Linked DNA regions of Homo sapiens: region 2 is linked to region 1. The links come from fine-mapping of genetic effects on gene expression. A gene starts in region 1. The other region holds a variant in brackets. All regions are shown on one strand. Distances are from middle to middle. Region 1 holds the start of TNIP2 (TNFAIP3 interacting protein 2). Region 2 overlaps FAM193A (family with sequence similarity 193 member A).

Region 1 (2,897 bases):
TGCGATCTTGGCTCACTGCAACCTCTGCCTCCCAGGCTCAAGTGATCCTCCCACCTAAGTCTCCCTAGTGGCTGGGAGCACGGGCACGTGCCACCATGCCCGGCTAATTTTTTGCACTTTTTGTAGACAGGGTTTCACCATGTTGCTCAGCCTTGTCTCGAACTCCTGGGCTCAGGCAATCTGCCCGCCTTGCCTCCGAAAGTACTGGGATTACAGGCGTGAGCCACTGCACCCAGCCTAGGATTTGTGTCCTTTATCAGACACGGGCTGCATTTGCCATTGCTCCCAGCATAGAGTTGAAGCGCCACTAGTGAAAGACACATGCATGGGTGAGGGCTGGAAGGGACTCTAGAACACAATATGAGTACACGACCTTGGACCCAAGACACACATGTGTGCGTACACACACACACCATACACACCCCTCAGAATGTGTCTCCCGCACACACACCTCAAAACACCCCTAAGAACCAACCGGAACATACACACTACACAATACACACAGAATACACACAGCATACACACACCCCCCTCGGAATGTGTTCCCACACACGAACCTCAAAATACCCCTAAGAGCCCACCTGAACATACACCACACACACACAGAACCCAAGAACTGCACCAACCCCCCTCCTCAGAACCCAGTGCCTCCTCACCATCCCCCAGGACCCAGTGCCCTCCCAACCCCCCAGGATCCAGCATTCGCTTATCCCCTTCAGAACCTTGCACCCTCACCCCGCAGGACCCAGAGCCCCCTCACCTCCACCAGCACCTGGTGACGCCTCAAACCCCCCAGGACCCAGCACACCTCAGCCCGTGGTGTCCCCTTATCCCACTCAGGACCTGGTCCCCCTCTCTCCCCTAGGACCCAGGGTCCCCTCACCCCCCAGAAGCTGTTGCCCTATCACCCCCAGGACCCGACGGCCCCTTACCCCCAGGACCTAGTGTCCCTCAACCCCAGGACCCGGCACCCCCTCAACCCCCAGGACCTGATGCTCCCCCAACCCCTCAGGAGCCGGGGCCCCCTCACCCCCAGGACCCGGCACCCCCTCAACTCCCAGGACCTGGTGCTCCCCCAACCCCTCAGGACCCGAGGCCAACTCAACCCCAGGACCCAGTACCCCCTCAACCCCTCAGGACCCGGGGCCCGCTCGCTCACCCACCCAGGACCCGGCGGCCGCCACACGCACTCTCGCTCCCGCAGCTCCTCTGGTACCCGCCCTCGTACCTGGCGCATCTGGGCCTCGGCGGCGCCGCCCTCCTGCCTTCGCAGCTGCTCCCGGAAGCGCGCAACCTGCTCCAGCAGCGCGTCCACTAGGGACGGCGCGGCGTCCCCCTCCAGCGCGGCCAGGCGGGCGCGGAGGCGAGCGATGAGGGCGTCGCGGGCAGCGAGCTGGTCCTGCAGGCGGCGCAGCCGCTGTCCGGCCTCGTGGTACAGGGTGCAGAGCGCGGCAGCTGCGCGCGGGGCCTCCTCCCAGCCGCCCGACCCCGGGTCCCGGGACATGGCTGTAGGCCCGCCCGGGAGGCCGCGCGGCCGCCGGCAACTTCCGCGCCCGGGCCCCGCCGGCTGCCGCCCTTCCCGGAACTTTCCCCGGTGCGCCCCGCCCACCCACAACAGCCCGGCCCCGCCCTCCCCCACGCAGCCCCGCCCCCCGCGCAGCCCCGCCCTTCCCCGCGCAGCCCCGCCCGACGGCAGCCCGCCCAGCCCCTTCTCGCCCGGCCCCACCCCTCCCACCGCCTACAGCCCGGCCCCGCCCCTGCCGTCCGCACCCGTCCGGGAGAGTTGGCCTGGCCCCCGAGGCTGTCCACACCCCAGCTGGTGCTGGGCTTATTCCAGTGGCCCCAAACATCCGCCTCTGAGGAGTTGTCGGAGAGTCGAACTCAGCCCAGGAGTTTGGGGATTCATCAGCCTCTGATGGAAAGGAAGGGCTTAACGACAACCCCCAAGCTCTGGAGCTAAGTGTGGGTCTGAATCTCCCCGCGAGGGTCCAGGCCTTGCGGCCACAGCAGCAACAGAAGCTCCAGGAGCTGAGCTCGCAGCGCACCAAGCACGTGGCATGTGTTCCGTCACCTGGGGACACTGAGCCCAGAAAGAGCTCCAACCCCCTGCCCCGCACGCCGCTTTCTTTTTTCTTTCCTTTTTTTTCTTCTTTTTGAGACGGAGTTTCGCTCTGTTGCCCAGGCTGGAGTGTAATGGCGCGATCTCGGCTCACTACAACCTCCGCCTCCCAGTTTCAAGCGATTCTCCTGCCTCAGCCTCCTGAGTAGCTGGGATTACAGGCGCCCGCCACCATGCCCTGCTAATTTTTTGGTATTATTAGTAGAGATGGTGTTTCACCATGTTGGCCAGGCTGGTCTTGAACTCCTGACCTCAGGTAGATCCACCGGCCTCAGCCTCCCAAAGTGCTGGGATTACAGGCGTCAGCCACTGCAGACGCTGCTTTGTAAGGTGGCTAGTATGGGCCCACGGGACAACCTTCCTGCTAGATGCTGTTCTTATATAGCAGAAGCAGCAGGAAACCAGCCCCTTCCCACCCTTTCGCTTTTCCATCCCTTTCCTTCCCCAAAATTCCCAGACAAACGCTAGTGTTTTTCCACAGCCCAGTCTTCCCCACAATGATGCCCAAGCACACATGGGGTCTTTCCAAGGTTCCCTACTCAGGATAGGGCAGGGGTCTTCCCTGTGTGTGCACTTGCCCACAGGCTCCGCCCCTGAGCAGCTTCTTGACTTTCTTCCCTTATGTGATCCACAGCCAAGCCTGAGCTGAGCCTGGGAAAACACAAGCTTGTAGAATCAGACAAGCCTATAAGCAAAGCCAGAGCCACCCAAGTGCTTATGGCCCGGACATTGGGCTACACAGGCCTGGCTTTGCTATGGAAGGCTCCTTCTTACTCAT
Region 2 (2,897 bases), 25 kb before region 1:
ATTCGCCACCGGCAACTCAGGTACCTGCCACCGGCAACAGGCTCGCTCAGCCTCTGCCCACCAGGCTGAAGCCATGCTCCCACCACAGCCTCCCGAGTAGCTAGGACCACAGGTGTGCGCCACCACACCTGGCTAATTTTTGTGTTTTTTTGTAGAGATGAGGTTTTACCATGTTGCCCAGGCTGGCCTTGAACTTGTAAGCTCAAGTGATCCACGCACCTCAGCCTCCCAAAGTGCTGGGATTATAGGCATGAGCCACCACAGCAAGGCTTTATTATTTTTGAGACGGGTCTCACCTTTGTCACCCAGGCTGGAGTGCGGGGGCACCATCACAGCTCACTGCAGCCTTGACCTCCCAGGCTCAAGGATCCTCCCACCTCAGCCCCGAGCAGCTGGGACTATAGGCACATATGTGTACTGCCACTCCTGGCTAACTTTTTACTTTTTGTAAAGATGGAGTCTCACTGTGTTGCACGGGCTGGTCTCAAACGCCTGGGTTCAAGTGATTCTCCAACCTCAGCCTCCCAAAGTAGTAGGAAAACAGGCATGAGCCACCATGGCCAGCTTCAGATCTCCTCTTTGGTGTCAGTTTCAGGAAGGAAAAACCAAGAAACAAGAATGTTGACTATTTGCCTGGCTAAGACCTGACACAGGAATCCTTTTAAACAGCTTTAGAGTTGAAAGTTGACTTAATTAGAAGCTGATATTTAGGATATATGTGTATACAATTTTTTCGAGGCCTCTGCTTTCTATAAAAGCTTCTTGGAGGCCGGGCGCGGTGGCTCACGACTGTAATCCCAGCATTTTGCGAGGCCGAGGAGGGCAGATCACAAGGTCAGGATATTGAGAGCATCCTGGCTAACATGGTGAAACCCCATCTCTACTAAAAATAGAAGAAATTAGCTGGGCGTGGTGATAGGTGCCTGTAGTCCCAGCTACTTGGGAGGCTGAGGCAGGAGAATGGCATGAACCTGGGAGGCGAAGGTTGCAGTGAACCGAGATCACGCCACTGCACTCCAGCCTGGGCGACAGAGCAAGACTCCGTGTCAAGAAAAAAAAAAAAGCTTCTTGGCCAGGGAAGAAGCTACAAAAAATACAAAAATTAGCTGGGTGTTGTGGTATGCACCTGTAGTCCTAACTATTTGGGAAGCTGAGGCAGGAGAATCGCTTGAACCTGGGAGGCAGAGGTTGCAGTGAGCCAAGATCGTGCCACTGCACTCCAGCCTGGGTGACAGAGACTCCATTTGAAAAAAATTAAAAATTAGCTAGGTGTGGCCAGGCACAGTGGCTCACGCCTGTAATCCCAGCACTTTGGGAGGCC[G/A]AGGCAGGCGGATCACTTTAGGTCAGGAGTACAGATCAGCCTGGTCAACATGGTGAAACCCTCTTTCTACTAAAAATACAAAAATCAGCTGGACGTGGTGGTGGGCACCTGTAATCCCAGCTACTTGGGAGGCTGAGGCAGGAGAATCACTTCAACGTGGGAGGCGGAGGCTTCAGTGAGCTGAGATTGTGCCATTGCACTCTAGCCTGGATGACAAGAGCGAAACTCCTTCTCAAAAAAAAAAAAAAAAAAAAAAAAAAAACCGGTGTGGTGGTACATGCCTGTAGTCCTAGCTACTTGGGAGGCTGAGGCAGAGAATTGCTTGAACCTTGGAGGTGGAGGTTGCAGTGAGCCGAAACTGCCACTGAACTCCAGCCTGGGCAAGAGAGTGAGACCCTGTCTCAAAAAAAAAAGGATTTCACCATGTTGCCCAGGCTGGTCTCGAACTCCTAAGTTGAAGTGATTTGCCCTCCTCAGCCTCCCAAAGTGCTGGGATTACAGGTATGAGCCACCACACCCTGCCTGGGCCTGATAATTTAAGGGCGCTCACAGCTCTCAGATTAAACGTTTCTTTTCTTTCTCAGGACTCCTTCCGCCCACCCATTCCTCCTCCCGAGTCCTTTCCCCTTCTCAAGTGCAGCCTGTAGCAGGGCCTGGAGGGGACCCTTGACACTGTGCCCCTCACCGAGAATCTAAACCCCTGACCCCGCAGTGAGTTTCTGGCAAGAACAGGAGTGTGATGGGCTTTGCCAAGCACCAGCTTGGTTGTGGGCTGTTTCCTTCAGTGACTGTTTGGCTTTTTGTCTTTGCAGGTTCTGCTTGGATTCTGCTAGACAGACCCGACAAAGACTGTCTATCAACTGGTCCAATTTTAGCTTGAAAAAAGCCACCTTTGCTGCCCACTGAATGAGGACTCCCTGGAGAGGGACACGCGAGAGGCAGGCCAGGCTGCACCACCCCAAGAGCCACGCCCCTCGCTGGCGCCCCAGAGCCGTGGTGCTTGCCAAGGGCTGTGCGGAGCTGGTGCTGCCTGAAACCCCAGACCGAGAAGTTGATGCTCGGCCCACGCCGTTAGCTCGTGTGCGTGTAGTCTGTGCGTGAGACTCCTTCGATTGTAGCTCTGTGCTGTCGGATTGGAACAGTAGTTCCCGCCAAGTCCTCCCACCACCGCGGCCTCGGAGGCCTGGGCCGTGGCCAGATAGGAGTTTGCATCATCCACGTGGCTCCGTTGCCTCTGCATTGCGCCCTGTCCTGTCATGTGTCCTCACCGGGGTATCGGCCGTCACTCAGCTCTCCTGTGCCCCTGCGTCTCACCCTAGGCGGGCTGGGCGGGGCAGGCCTCCTTTGTTCTCCACAATCTACTGTCTCCGAGTGTACACGTTGCGCTGTTTGTGTTTGATCCCCCTGACTTGTAGCCAGCTTGTGTAAGATCCCTTGCAGAACGAGAAAGTTAAAAACAAGCCCACCCAGTACTCACACCATCAAGTCTGTTATAGAGTGTACGACTGTATTAACACGGAGGCCTGCCTGGCTACTTTTTTAACATATTGTTAAGTAATATTAAAATCATGTCTTT

Evidence for each region. PIP is the estimated chance that this variant, and not a neighbour inherited with it, causes the effect.
Region 2: its variant is fine-mapped to the expression of TNIP2 in whole blood (TOPMed, PIP above 0.99).

The regions. Positions count from the first base shown.
Region 1 is chr4:2,754,786-2,757,682 of GRCh38, forward strand. It overlaps TNIP2 (TNFAIP3 interacting protein 2), which reads right to left and starts at 1,551. Exons shown (of 6, transcript NM_024309.4): 1 at 1,229-1,551. The coding sequence starts at 1,504. RefSeq lists silencers at 1,094-1,153, 1,174-1,693, 1,874-2,013.
Region 2 is chr4:2,729,642-2,732,538 of GRCh38, forward strand. It overlaps FAM193A (family with sequence similarity 193 member A), which reads left to right. Exons shown (of 21, transcript NM_001366318.2): 21 at 2,134-2,897. The coding sequence ends at 2,227. Among named protein-coding and RNA genes, the nearest start is that of TNIP2, 25 kb to the right of the region's middle. The variant G/A (reference allele first, on the strand shown) is at 1,322.